3 separate regions of the Homo sapiens genome follow, and regions 2 and 3 are each reported to be linked to region 1. The links are microRNA targets in miRTarBase. Many come from high-throughput screens and were not tested one by one. Region 1 holds a microRNA gene; each other region holds the end of a gene's coding sequence.

What was found. Region 1 holds the annotated microRNA hsa-miR-545-3p (UCAGCAAACAUUUAUUGUGUGC, at 3,268-3,289, opposite strand). A microRNA usually pairs through its seed, bases 2 to 8, with sites in the 3' UTR of a target mRNA and lowers its output. Matches are read on the target gene's strand: a 7mer-m8 pairs with bases 2 to 8, a 7mer-A1 pairs with bases 2 to 7 and ends in A, and an 8mer does both.
Region 2: miRTarBase lists UBXN2A as a target of hsa-miR-545-3p. The part of its 3' UTR that is shown has no 7-base or 8-base seed match.
Region 3: miRTarBase lists CLSPN as a target of hsa-miR-545-3p. Seed matches in the 3' UTR shown: 7mer-m8 at 3,120-3,126 and 7mer-m8 at 2,063-2,069.

The regions. Positions count from the first base shown.
Region 1 is chrX:74,283,859-74,288,935 of GRCh38, forward strand. MIR545 (microRNA 545) reads right to left here and starts at 3,351; the gene lies at 3,246-3,351. All of the region lies in intron 1 of FTX (FTX transcript, XIST regulator), which reads right to left. It overlaps MIR374A (microRNA 374a), which reads right to left and starts at 3,499; the gene lies at 3,428-3,499. It overlaps LOC124905199 (a long non-coding RNA gene), which reads right to left. Exons shown (of 2, transcript XR_007068266.1): 2 at 4,007-5,077. RefSeq lists an enhancer at 1-461.
Region 2 is chr2:23,999,048-24,004,124 of GRCh38, forward strand. UBXN2A (UBX domain protein 2A) reads left to right here. Exons shown (of 7, transcript NM_181713.4): 7 at 625-5,077. The coding sequence ends at 820. Among named protein-coding and RNA genes, the nearest start is that of MFSD2B, 8.5 kb to the right of the region's middle.
Region 3 is chr1:35,732,180-35,737,256 of GRCh38, forward strand. It overlaps CLSPN (claspin), which reads right to left. Exons shown (of 25, transcript NM_022111.4): 24 at 4,735-4,896; 25 at 1-4,427. The coding sequence ends at 4,317. Among named protein-coding and RNA genes, the nearest start is that of CLSPN-AS1, 4.7 kb to the right of the region's middle.

The sequences.
Region 1 (5,077 bases):
AATTAGCTGGGCGTGGTGGCGCATGCCTGTAATCCCACTCGGGAGGCTGAAGCAAGAGAATTGCTTGAACCAGGGAGTCGGAGGTTGCAGTGAGCCGAGATCACGCCACTGCACTCCAGCCTGGCGACAGAGCAAGACTCCGTCTCAAAAAAAAAAATCAGCCAGAATCCCAGAAAAGTTTAACACTTGGGGTATGTTCATCCAACAACTTCCATGTACATACACAAACATGAATTCTTATTTTACAATGATTAGATGAAACTATACTATTGCCCTTTAGCCCTTTTTCAATTAATATACTGTATACTTCTTTCCAAGTCAAATATTTATCTTCAAGACTATTTTTATTTTTAATGGCTATGCTGTCCCATTACATGAATACACCAAAATGTATTTAACCAAGTTCCTATTCATGACTAGGTAAGTTTTTCCATTATTTACTGTTATGAACACCGTGAATATGCCCATATCTAAATCTTTTTTTAAATAATGTTAAACATATATTTGGGGGTATATCCCTATAAATGAATACAAATCTTACAGTGTAAGAGATTTGCAAAGATCAGTAAAACACATCTCTACCCTTGAGTTTAAATCAAAGGAGAGAGACACAAACAGGTAACATTTACCATTATCATGTCCATGGATAAAGATAAACAAAATTTCATGGTGCTTCCTAATTGAAACTGCAGCTGTTGCTAACAGAAAAGGCTCAAAGAATACTATTAGACAGTAGCCCAAATTAAAATTCCATTTGCTAGAATTCCAAAGTTATTCTAATGCTAAATATTGCCTCATTGGCATTTCAATATGACATTGTTGTTTCTCCTTTAGCAAGCCTTAAAGGAGAGAACCAAGCAGAAGCTGCTCAGAAAACCACCTACCCTAAAGGCAGAGAAGTGAGTAAGGTGCAGGGCAGTATATGACACTGGACCTGGACTTCCATCTTTCCTTCCCCCTACTATTTCCAGTAAACAACAGTGAGCTATAGCCATTTTCTTTCAGAAACAACGTGGATTCTCTCCCTGGGACTCTCATTCCTGCACAGATCTGCTTACACATAGTTGGGCTGTGCTGGTATTCATGCTGACTTAGAAGACAAAAATAAGAATGAAAAGAAGCTTTTTCAGCACCATGATGGGTCAGATACAGATGACATTAACACAGAAGACAGACAGATTTTTAAAACCTATTCAACAAAGATGAGTTACTGTGATAACACAAACAGTCCTGAATCTTATAGTAACATTTCAGTCACAGGCGCATATACAATGGTGGTCCCATAAGATAATAACACCACGTTTTTACTGTACCTTTTCTATGTTAGATATGTTTGGATATACAAATACTTACCACTGTATTCCAAATGCCTACAGTATTCAATACAGCAACATGCTGTACAGGTTTGTAGCCTAGGAGGAATAGGCTATACCATATAGCCTAGGTGTGTAGTAAGCTATACCATCTAGGTTTGTATAAGTACACTCCCCTATGATGTTCACACAACAACAAAATGACTTAATGATCCATTACTCAGAACATATCCTGTCTTTAAGCAACACATGACTGTATAGTTAAATGTTAATTATAAAATCTAGGTGTTGGGTACATGGCTTTTCACCGTACAATTCTTTCAACTTTTCTGTATGTATGTTTGACAACTTTCACAATACAATTTTGGGAAAAATCCAGCAAGCAGCTTTAAAAATATGGCTGTAAGACCTTTCCTTCTATTATATTTTATTCCTAGGATGATCCTATCCAACGAGATGAACCTATTCAGTGTTTCCTCCATTTTGTTTTAGATTTAGCTTTCTCAAATATGACTTTGAGCTCTCCGACTTTTTAATGAAGTGAAATGAATCAACATGTATTCATAGGCAGGTTACCAAGATAGTACATGTAAAGTTGGGGAGGCACAAGGGGAGGGGCTCTAAGCTCTTGGAAGTCTAGGCTCACTATCTGTATACATCTAAATAAATGAGTATTTCAGACACCCCACTTCTTCATTTAAAAATTAGTGTTAGGGACCCTCTAAACATTTGCCTCAGCTTACCTTTCTGCCTTATCTCACATTAAGTCCTTATTTCCCATATTCTCATTGCAAAGAACTGTGTAGGAAGGAGGGGGGCAAGGACGAAGGCACCAAAGCATGCTATGTCCACGTGCTTCAAGTTTGAATATAATAAAAGGTATTTCTAGAGTAGAGGTTCAAAGCTTGATGTTGAAGGGCAGGGTATAACTGACTGACTGCAGGACCCTGGGGGAGGTCTTATAATCTTCTACTTTAAAACATGTCTTAGCTGGCTTATCTGTAAAAGAGGAAAAAGACTTGTCACAAGCAATGACAAATGAAGTAAATAAATATGAATTTCTGGTCTGGTGAATGGAATGAGAAATGAAACCATCACTGTCGAGTGATGATCCAGAGTGGGCACAGATCTTTTTCTACAAAGGCTTTGTGGGCCACAATGTCTCCAATATATTTAATGGCAAAAACAGCAACTACTTTTGCACCAACCTAATAGCTACTTAATTGTGCCACTGGGCCGCAAAAGCGGCCCCAGGTAAAACATCGATGAATGAACATGGCTGTGTTCCAATATAGAATGGTATTTACAAAAACAGGTAGCCCATGGGCAATAAAGTTTGCCCACCCTTGGTTTAGAATATGGAGTCTGGTTGGGTGCAGTGGCTCACACCTGTAATCCCAGCACTCTGGGAGGCTGAGGGAGGTAGATCGCTTGAGTCCAGGAGTTCAAGAACAGCCTGGGCACCATAACGAGACCCCTTCTCTACGAAAAATACAAACATTAGCCAGGGGTGGTGGCACACACCTATAGTCCTAACTCAGAATGCTGAGGTGGAAGATCACCTGAGCCTAGGAGTTCGAGGCTGCAGTGACCCGTGTTCGCACCATTGCACTCCAGCCTGGGCAACAGAGTGAGAACCTGTCCCTTAAAAAAAAAAAAAAAAGAAAGAAAAATGCAAAGTCCTATCTAAGAATACTATTTGGATGATTACCTGGGCCCTGAGGATGAGGCCCCAATCTAACAGTTATCACTCAAGTCCCACCAAGAAAGCAAGTGTCAGCAATAGCAACAGTTGCAACATCTGTAAATATCAAGGACTGAAATCCAAACACAAAAATGGCATTGTCTCATGAGAAACTCTTAGGAAGATATATACAGAAATATCAAATTTCTGACCACATGCTTTTTGAAGAAACAGCTGACAATCCAGAGCCTGTGGAGCTCACTTTAGCAGGCACACAATAAATGTTTGCTGATGAGTCATTCATTTATTCATCTAATAAACATTTACTGAGGCCTACTAATGTGCCAGGCTGGGCTCTGGAGATGAAGACACCTTCCTTGCCCTCAAGGAGCTCACAGTCTAACTGATAACAGGAAGAGAGACAGGCATATACACAGACAATTACAATACAATCTGATAAGTGCTATAACACTTATCAGGTTGTATTATAATGGCCGATGTAAAATTTCTTCCCAGGGGGTGCTGCTCCAGGCTGCTGCTGGCTGTAACATCAAGAGAGGTGAGGAACAAATTATAGAAATCAAAGGTTAAATGCTTTTCGGTTATTTCAAATATTCAGGCTTTCCCTAACCCGTGGCCATAGACGGAATTGGGAACTAGACACTGGCATGATGTAAAATGGGACTTCCATGCACAGACTTCCAATAAAGGAACTTCTCAATCCCCTCCTCTAAAATATGAGCTTTTTTTTTTCCTTTTTGCTTATACTCCTCTTAACCTCCCCACCCTACTACCCACATGAGCCTGGTTTAATATCTACAGCTAGCAAAATGCTGAAAAATGGGAGCTTACAACTAACTGGATTAACCCAGTGTAACCGGATAGCAAAAAGCAGTAAGTAATAGCTCATTTGGCACTTCTAAATCCAATAATCCTCATCCTTCACTGGAAAAAAAAAGTTAGAATGTTATTAAATACAAAATAGATAATATACAGATCAGAGTAGGAATAAGTTAGAAAAGTTTATTTAATAAACATAATTAAACAGATTCTCTAAACTAGAAATAACATTCAGTTTCAGGAAACCAGAATTAGACCCCTCCAAGACCTTTGAGAATATCTAATTCACCTATGTATTATAAACAAGAAAAATGAAACAGAGAGATAACACACTCTGCCCACTCCCTTTTCAAAATCATGTGAGTGATAGTAACAGACTCCTTGAGGCAAGATTATTACTGTAATAGTTATTTGGTTCAGATGGTTTTATACAAAGATAAGATGGCATTTTTCTGTGCCTCATACCTTTCTTAATAATACCTAGGTTTTTACTGGCTTTTTTGTCTCTGACCAGCAAATAGGGCTGATAACATCAGCAAGTTGTTGACAGTTATACTGAGATCACTGTTTTGGGACCCAATGTCTCTATGAGGCTGTTATTTAATAAGCTTAACATACTATTTTCCCCTAAAGTTATTTCACTGCTCTTGCCTATACACTGTTCCTTTCTGCCAATTAGCCCACTCCTGGTGCCTTCTCACATGCTAGCGTGTTCCTATTAGCATTTCACATCCCCAAAGCATTTAACAGTATGTATAAATGTGGACACTTCAATATTGCCCATATCCTCCCTCAGACCACTCAGAAATATTTAAAATAAGACCAGTCCCTGAATGGATGGGGGAGAAGGGACCGCTGTTTTGTTTCTTGTCTAAATTAGTTTCTCATTAGGGACAAAATGTTGCCCTGTCTTCTCCCCATGCCCAGAGCCAGGAAGCACCACTGTTGTACAGTACTCAAAAGTGCTTTCCTTTTAGATAAAAAGAAATGGATTTCTGTTTAAAGGTCAGACAAGGCTGGGTAAGGTGGCTTATGCCTGTAATCCCAGCACTTTGGGAGGCGGAGGCAGAAAGATTGCTTGAGCCCAGGAGTTCGAGACCAGCCTGGGCAAGACCTCCACTCTAAAAATAAAAACAAAAATAAGATAGAGGTCAGACAAATGTTATCTCAAAATGGCTACCAAGAACCAGACATGTATCCACACAGCAGTTATATTTGGAATTGCAAACATTTCTTCAGA
Region 2 (5,077 bases), not on the chromosome of region 1:
CTTACAGGTTTAATAAAGTGGCACGTAGTGAATTTTAGTGAATTGATTGAATGAGAGAATTCTTTCTTTAGTGATAGGCATATTTCATTAATTCTGAGTTGCACATTTTTTCACATTTTAGCATCTGTGAAATGAGGATGCATTCTATAATCCATGGCTACATGACGATCATGATACAATTGTGACAGCCTCTGTAAAACATAGCCATAATTCCTTTGTCTTACCTAAGATAATTAACAGTAGTAATTCATAGTACTAATTATCTTACCTAAGATAATTAACAGTAGTAGTAGTATTGTCATCAAATTTCTGGGAGTCAAACTTTAAAAGATAGCCCAAATAATCAGTTATATCATAAATTCAGTTATTCTATATATTAACATATCCAGAGTCTGGGTGTTGTGGCTCATGCCTGTGATCTCAGCACTTTGGGAGGCTGAGGCAGGAGGATCAGTTGAGCCCAGGAGTTATTATGATGGCACCACTGCACTGCATCCTGGGTGACAAAGCAAGACGCTATCTCTAATAATAACATATCCAGATACTTTTACCAGTTGTTGTTACTATAAATTAGGTAATTCAAATTTTCCTAAAATTATATTAATAGTTTTTGCTGTTTTACAGAGTAAGCCATATCAAAGACTTCATTGAAAAATACCAAGGATCTCAAAGAAGTCCTCCGTTTTCCCTGGCAACAGCTCTTCCTGTCCTCAGGTTGCTAGATGAGACACTCACACTGGAAGAAGCAGATTTACAGAATGCTGTCATCATTCAGAGACTCCAAAAAACTGCATCTTTTAGAGAACTTTCAGAGCACTGATTTTTGATAGACTAAGTGGAAAATTTGCAGAGAAATGATGGTTGTAAGTGGACATGCAAACCAAAATTGGGGATTGGAGAAGTCAGACTCACTAGACTTTTGGTTCGAGTACTATTGAACTCTCTCCTGATGAGAAGATGTTTAGATAAGTACAAGTTAAGAAAGTAGCATATGACTGGAAACTATATTCAGTGCACTTTCTCCAAAAGACTACCCAGAAAAATAGACTTATTTTCAAATACCAGTTATCAAGATATATTAAATAGCTGTATTGTTTAGAATCTTAATATGGTATAAATTAGCATATGTATTCACAATATTCATTCAGACATCATTCCCAGACAGCAGGGATTTATTTAAATGTTAGCTGTCTGAGTTTTTAAATAGCTAATACGACCGGGTACAGTGGTTCATGCCTGTAATCCCAGAACTTCGGGAGGCCGAGACAGGCAGATCACGAGGTCAACAGATTGAGACCATCCTGGCAAACATGGTGAAACCCCATCTCTAGTAAAAATACAAAAATTAGCTGGGCGTGGCGGTGCGCAACTGTAGTCCCAGCTACTCGGGAGGCTGAGGCAGGAGAATCTCTTGAACCTGGCAAGTGTAGGTTGCAGTGAGCTGAGATTGAGCAACTGTACTCCAGCTTGGCGACAGAGCAAGACCCCCTCTCAAAAATAAATAAAATAAAGTAAAATAAATATAAATAATTGTGGCCGGGTGCAATGGCTCATGCCTGTAATCCCAGCACTTTGGGAGGCTGAGATGGGAGGATCACTTGAAGCCAGGAGTTTAAAACCAGAATGATCAACAGAGTGAGACCCCTGTCTATATATTTTTTTAATTTAAAAAATAAAAGAATAAAATTGTGTAGCTCAGTATAGTATCAAGATTAATCTGCCTACTCACATTTCTACACTTTATAAAAATGTAATAAAAGAAAATTATCTTTCTAAAAAGCCTATTCCCTTTCCATTTTATTTTCTTTCAAAAATTATGGATTTGTTTTTGGCTAACATTTGGGATTAGCCATTCATTTGCCACCACTCACTTAGAATATAATGCCGGTGTGTGTCACATTACTAGTATTTTTTAAATGCATCATATAAAGTATGGTTTTCTGTTTCTTTTTCGTTTGTTTGAGATGGAGTTTCGCTCTTGTTGCCCAGGCTGGAGTGCAGTGGCGCAATCTCAGCTCACCACAACCTCCACCTCCCGGGTTCAAGAGATTCTCCTGCTCAGCCTCCCAAGTAGCTGGGATTACAGGCATGCGCCACCATGCTTGGCTAATTTTGCATTTTTAGTAGACACGGGATTTCACCATGTTGGTCAGGCTGGTCTCGAACTCCCGACCTCAGGGGATCTGCCTGCCTAGGCCTCCTGAAGTGCTGGGATTACAAGTGTGAACCACCGTGCCCAGCTGGTTTTCTGTTTCATACATCAGAGTCAACTTGTGAATACATTTAAAGATTATTTCATTTTGATATCACGAAGAAAAACAGGCTTTATATCTCAGACTTTAACTAAATCCAGTTAGACCTCAATTTTTCACTGTCAGATTAAATCCCCATACCTGAAAATAAGTTTAACATTTTTTTTTGCAAATGATCTATTGAATCAGATTTAAAATGAAGCATGCATTGAGTGTGCCAAGGAACTAAGTGGTCCATAGCAGCAGTAATGTTCATAGGGTGCGAGATGCCTGCTATGAAACAGCAACTCTCAAACATTTTTATCTCAAGACCATTTGTTTATGTGAGCTATATATATTATTATATTAAATATTAAATTTTTAAAATATTTATTTATGGGCCAGGCACGGTGGCTTACGCCTGTAATCCCAGCACTTTGGGAGGCTGAGGCAGGCGGATCACAAGGTCAAGTGATTGAGACCATCCTGTCCAACATGGTGAATCCCCGTCTCTACTAAAAATACAAAAAAAATTAGCTGGGTGTGGTGGCATGCGCCTGTAGTCCCAGCTACGTGGGAGGCTGAGGGAGGAGAATGGCTTGAACCCGGGAGGTGGAGGTTTCAGTGAGCCGAGATTGCGCCCCTGCACTCCAGCCTGGTGACGGAGCGAGACTCTTTCTCAAAAAAAAAAAATTATTCATTTAAAAATAACTTCTGGCTGGACATGGTGTCTCACGCCTGTAATCCTAGCACTTTGGGAGGCCAAGACAGGTGGATCACTTGAGCCCAGGAGTTTGAGACCAGCCTGGGCAACAAGGCAAAACTCTATCTATAAAAATTACAAAAATTAGTGCAGTAGCTCACACCTGTAATCCCAGCACTTTGGGACACTAAAGCGGGCAGATCACCTGAGGTCAGGAGTTCGAGACCAGCCTGGTCAATGTGGTGAAACCATGTCTGTACTAAAAATACAAAAATTAGCCTGGTGTGGTGGCACATGCCTGTAATCTCAGCTACTAGGGAGGCTGAGGGAGGAGAATTGCTTGAACTCAGGAGGCAGAGGTTGCAGTGAGCCGAGATTGCGCCACTGCACTCTAGCTTAGGCAACAGAGTAAGACCCTGCCGTAATAATAATAACTTTTTTTTTTTTGAGATAGAGTTTTGCTCTTTCCCCCAGACTAGAGTGCAATGGCGCGATCTTGGCTCACTGCAACTTGTCCCCCCGGGTTCAAGCGATTCTTCTGCCACAGCCTCCCGAGTAGCTGGGATTATAGGCGCCCACTACCACGCCTGGCTAATTTTTGTATTTTTAGTAGAGACGGGGTTTCGCCATGTTGGCCTGGCTGGCCTCTAACTCGTAACCTCAGGTGATCCGCCCGCCTTGGCCTCCCAAAGTGCTAGGATTATAGGCGTGAGCCACTGTGCCCAGCCAATAATAACTTATAAAACATGAAACGATTTAGTGAGAAAAGTGGCCGGTTTTTTGGGGGGAATTACTTTCTGTCATAAAGAAGATAGATGGGTTCTCATGTCTTCTACATTCAGTCTGTTGTGCAGTCACATATCATGTAGACTCTGGAAAACACCTCTGTATACTGGTGAAAGAATGAAAAGAAGCAAATAATGCCTTAGTATGATTATGAAAAACGTTTTGACTTCACAGTGCCCTGAATGGGTCTTGGGAATCTCCAGGGATCCCTCAGGCACACTTTGAGAACCAATCTATATAAAGTGATGGTTCACAATGATTCTGAAGCCTTAGTTTCAGAATCATTTGGGGCAGCTTTTCAAAAATGCCATTCCTGCCACCTACCACAAAGATTCTGATTCACTGTATCTGTGATGGGTCTCAGATCTCTGCATTTTTAATCTCACGTGATTCTTAAGTATGTGGTGGAAGTACCTTTCTTCAGGAAATTCTGTCCTAAGCTTTTACCCTGAGAAAATAAAACCTGCATGCTTTCACCATGGACGGTGGGAGACTCCACTGAAACACATCTGCTAGACCACTAAGTTTATCCTTGTCACCCAGTTTGCTCTTGGAAAGAGTCTGTTCCCTTTTGTCACTGAACCAATCATGACATAAACTTGTGCTTTACCTCCTATAGCACAGCCGAGACAAGGCTGGAACATTTAATTAAGGTTTTTACTAAGGACTCAGGAATAACAACAGGGAAATATCTATGTAACTAGATGACCTGACATAAAATCTATCTTCTGATTGCAGTCTATTGTGAGAATGCTGCTTTTCCTAGCTCCCAGCCTTCCATGGGGCAGAAGGCTCTTTTAATTAGGAAGAGAGGGAGGACAAAGGAGAGCCTTTTCTTTTGTCCATTACTCTTAGAAATGAACAGGTACATAATAGAAAATAAATAATTATTGTTGGTAATGTTTACACAGCAGTGTTAGAGCCTCTCTGTAGTGAAACAAAAATAATGTTCTTACCAAAAAAAAAAAAAAAAAAAAGAGGCAATGATAAAATCAATGAGCTTATCTTTCTGATATAGAAAATAACAGGATGACAGTTAATACATGTTCAGGAATCTAAGAAAATGTTTCATATAGGCCTATCATGTAGCATTTTTATTTGCATAATTATAGTCAACATATGATTCTCCATGTAGGGGTCTCTCATTGAGAATGTTTCCTGTGTACCTATAGAAAAGCCTCTTTGGTAGATTTTCCGGTTTATAATTATTTAACCAGAAGATACATGGGAGGTTCTTTTGTATGTACCTGTAGAATACATCCCAGTAAGGGTCCTATGGAGAAAGACCTGTTGTCATCAATAACCTTCATTATTCTAACTGTGAAACGTTCATTAATGCGAATAATATCCTCAAAGA
Region 3 (5,077 bases), not on the chromosome of region 1:
ATGAGTAGGATATAAGGGTAGAAGATACAATACCATCTCAAGGATGACATAATCAAATAGTATCATGGGAACACTCCTCCCAGAAATACTCTCCTCTATCCTTAGGAGCACAAATCCCAGGACAGGATGCCACAAGAGTGATTAGACATAACCCTAGGAGATAAAAACCAAAAACACCCCCTAAAAAGTCTCCCAGCCTGAGCATTAGAAACTCTCAAAGTGAGGAGAAGTTTGTAGAGAAGCAGTTGAGAAAATGAGGGATGCCACAGAGATCTGAGTACCTTGTCTCTAGAGCTTTGGTGAATAAAATCTTATGGTTTATGGAAGAGACCCTAGTATGGCTGTGCAACTGTGAATTAATGAGATGAAATTAGAGACCTGTTTAAAGAGGTTAATACCATGTATCCCTACTCAAGTGTATGGAACAAGGAAGAAACAAAAACACTGACACTGAGCCTACCCTATCTCCCACACTCATGGGCTCTCATCCCTCCAAATATGTAATTTCCAAGCTAGTGAAGCTGAGTCCTCCTCAGAGCCATAGTGGCAGGTCCTGGGGCTTCAATTTCATTAAAACATAACTGATGCTGCTGGCTCAGTGCTTTGGGCAAAGGGCATATGGGTCAGATTGAAACTGTCCATGTCAATCCTGTTACCAAGATCAAGGCTTAGCTTACTTTATAGCAGCCATCCTGGCATAAGGAAAAGTAACCCAGAGTTTGACTCAAGTTTTCTTTCTCCAAAGAGTGCTTTCTCCCAGGAGCCTCAATCAGAAACCATTTTCTTTCTTTCTTTTTTTTTTTGAGAGGGAGTCTCACTCTGTCGCCCATGCTGGAGAGCAGTGGCGTGATCTCGGCTCACTGCAACCTCTGCCTCCCAGGTTCAAGCAATTCTCTTGTCTCAGCCTCCCAAGTAGCTGGGACTACAGGCACCTGCCACCACCAAGCCTGGCTGATTTTTGTATTTTTAGTAGAGACGGGGTTTCACCTTGTTGGTCAGTCTGGTCTCCAACTCCTGACCTTAGGTGATCCAGCTGCCTCAGCCTCCCAAAGTGCTGAGATTACAGGCATAAGCCACCACGCCCAGCCCAGAAACCATTTTCTCCCTGGATTTCTCAGGCACTAATTTTCTTTTTTTTTTCTTTTTTTTTTTTTTTTTAGAGTTGGGATTTCACCATGTTTCCCAGGCTGGTCTCGAACTCCTGAGTTCAAGCAATGCACCCACCTCAGTCTCCTAAAGTGCTGGCGTGAGCCACCGGACCTGGCTGAATTTTCTTATCCTCAGTTGTCAATTCCAATTGTCTTTTCTATCTCTCCTCAAAAGACATGTAGGGAAACAAGAGGGAAGAAATATCTAGCCTTCCTGCTCAGTTCTCTTTTGCCCAGCAAGGGCTACTTTGCCTTGGGAACTGTTTAGAGAGTTCAAAGAAAGAGGCAAAAACATGTATCTTGAACCCATGGATAAAATGAAGTACATACAAACTTAGCTAAAGAGAAAGGCCAATCAAAGCTGTAACAGGCTGGGCATGGTGGCTGAGCCTGTGACCCCAGCATTTTGGGAGGCCAAGGTGGGAGGATTACTTGAGGCCAGGAGTTCAAGATCAGCTGGGGCAACACAGCAAGACCCTGTCTCTACTAAAATAAAATAATTAGCTGGGCATGGTGGCATATGCCTGTAATGTGGCCCAGCTATTCCAAAGGTTGAGGAAGGAGGATGCTGAAGCCCAGGAGTTCAAGGGTACAGTGAGCTATGATTGTGCCACTGCACTCTAACCTGGGCAACAGAATGAGACTGTCTCTAAAAAATAAGTTTTTTAAACAAAGAGCTATAATAGAAGGTACCATTTATGTAAACTCAATTATCCTCTTCACCTGAGCTGAACCCAAACCACTTGGTAAGTTAACTTGATCAATTCACTAGGACTGAGAAGCCAGTGAGGGGACAATTGCAGCAGCTTCTCAGTTTAGACCCAGAGGGTTTCCCTGGGATGGAGATAACCTGAAAATGAAATGCTCCTCAAGGTTAGACAGGCACTGACCCAAGAATGAGCATTCAAGCTGGACAGCAAATCTTCCCTTCAAGGCATTAAGATTTATTGAAAAACTACATACATATTAAAACATCTTTATACACATTTTCCCCATTATAAGATTACAAGTATACAAACATAAGTATTGTCAAAGTCAACATCTTGAGTATTAGAAAACTGTAGAAAACCGGCCGGGTGCGGTGGCTCATGCCTATAATCCCAGCACTTTGGGAGGCCGAGACGGGTGGATCACCTCAGGTCAGGAGTTCAAGACCAGCCTGGCCAACATGGCGAAACCTCATCTCTAATAAAAATACAAAAAATTAGCTGGGAGTGGTGGCAGGTGCCTGTAATCCCTGCTATTTGGGAGGCCGAGGCAGAATTGCTTGAACCTAGGAGGCGGAGGTTGCAGTAAGCCGAGATCATGCCATTGTATTCCAGCCTAGGTGACAGAGCCAGCCTATGTCTCAAAAAAAAAAAAAGAAAAGAAAAGAAAAGAAAAAGAAAAAGAAAAGAAAAGAAAAACTGTAAAAAACCTACAACCTAATTGCATCAATTAAATTGGTGTTCCCATCTCCCAGTAAAAAACTGGCACACTCTCTTCCAACTGCCCAAGTACAGGTCCTGACACTGAAACCACAGTATTCACATGGAATGTTTTTCCAAAGCAGCACTGATGCTCAGTTCTGAGGGGAAAAACATTTGTCTAAAATTCTGAGAAGCTTGTGGTAGTTCAGGGAAAATGGAGAATGATGGCAATTCTCTTCAATAATATTTTTATTAAATTCCATGGTGGCCTTCTCTCAAAATTAGTAATGAAATGCTGAAATGTCCATTGATTAGTGAGGGCAATGTATGTAAGCCAGAAGAATGCAATAAATAAGGGTTATGTTTCTTCTTGTCAGACCCAGAAGGGAGATCTTTGAACAACAGTGCTTCAAATTGAGAATTCAGTCCCAGGAAGGGTCTCTCTGCCCCACAGACTGTGGTGGACAAACACTGGGTGTAACACTTTATCTTCATCCCCAAGCCCCAGAAAATTAGAGGCAGAGTCTTTCTGACTTGGGTACCAGTTTAAGTCCTTATTAAGCAGCAAAAATTAATTCAAAATTTGATGCTGCCTTGGGAAGAAGCATACAGGAAAATGAAAGGGGTAAGAGTAATACAGCAGCCCATCTGTTGGTTCCTAGGTCCTCCATCTAAGAAATCGTTCTTTTGGCTGGGCACAGTGGCTCACGCCTGTAATCTCAGCACTTTGGGAGGCTGAGGCAGCTGGATCACTTGAGGTCAGGAGATCGAGACCAGCCTGGCCAACATGGTGACTCCCTGTCTCCACTAAAAATACAAAAATTAGCCAGGTGTGGTGGCATGCACCTGTAGTCCCAGCTACTTGGGAGGCTGAGACAGGAGAATCACTTGAACCCGGGAGGCAGAGGTTGCCGTGAGCCGAGATTGCGCCACTGCACTCCAGACTGGGCAACAAAGTGAGACTATCTCAAAAAAAAAAAAAGAAATCTTTCTTTCACCGAGCCCTGGTCATCATGGTACGTATCTCATGGGTGTAAAGGAGTCATTATGGTACTGATTTTCACTGTTTAATCTGTAATGTCACACTTTTCCCTACTCTTCCTCTTCCAACCACTTCTATCAATCACAAAGAGATATTAACCCAGAAAGCTGCTACAATAAAATGTCAAATGTCTAATGGAGGAAGTGAAACCTAACCCAAGGCCAGGTGCAGTGACTCATGCATGTGACCAGCACTTTGTGGGGCCGAGGTGGATGGATCATTTGAGGTCAGGAGTTCAAGACCAGCCTGGCCAACATGGTGAAACCCCGTCTCTACTAAAAATACAAAAATTAGCTGGGCGTATTGGCACATGCCTGTAATCCCAGCTACTCGGGAGGCTGAAGGAGGAGAATCGCTTGAACCTGGGAGGCAGAGATTGTGGTGAGCCGAGATCACGCCACTGCACTCCAAGCTGGGCAACAGAGTGAGACTCCCATCTTAAAAAAAAAAAAAAAAAGGAAACCTCACCCAAGTATTCCATGAGTTGTTGATGTTGTAAATACTGCAGAATTGAAATCAGTGGCCAATTCAGGGAATAATACTAGGAAAAGAGATGTCCAGAGCTGTGCAGTAGAAATCACTGGAATTTCTGTCTGCAATCTTATTGCATTGATTATGAAAGAAGGAAGGATCATTGGCTGGAGTGTCAATTCCAACTTTCAGTGCTAGAAACTTCTCAAAGCAGTCTCAATGTAGATTTTGGCACCTTTGATGGTGTTAGCTCTCCAAATATTTGAAGATGCTTCGCGTCAATCCTGAAGTGCTATCATCTGTTTTGAGGTGCTTAGGTGAAGGAGAAGTCATGAAAGATGGACCCCTTTTCTTTACCTAGAGAGCAGAGAGGGAGTCAGGGCCAGCTAAAGACCTTCATACAAGTATTTACCTTCAATTAGCTCTCAAGCAACTCATAAATTGTGGATGATTAACAACAGAAAAAAAGAAAGAAAGATAAACTTTCTCGGCAAGTTTAAAAGTTGATTACCGACTGGGGTAGCAATTCTCTTGTACCTTATCGGGGAGTGCAAGATTTCAACATTGCAGCATAGAGGTTAAGCCAGAATTTTTGTTTTTAAATTTAAATAAATGAATAAATTCTGGTTTGGGAAGCCACCATATTAGTTCTCAAATTCCATACCTGAGACTTAGACGATTCCTTTGCCGCCTCAGCCTTGACAGGAGAAAGTGTATGAAAGACAAAGTTTCTTGAATTTCGAGGAGCACTGGGGTTATGGTCAGAGAGAGCAGCCAGTTTCTGAAGCACAGCTTTGGGCTGGTTTAGCAGTGAGCCTGTCTTCACCTGAGGAAAGAAGAGTCATCTGGTATCAAATCCCAAGTGCCAACTAAAGAATGAAAAGTCCTTCCCTCCCTGCTTCCCCCTAGATATTGAGGGTACATATGCCTACCCTATTCAAATAGAAAAGAAATAGCAGACTCCTTTGACATTAACTTTTTCCCTGCAGCCACCTCCTTCCTCTAAT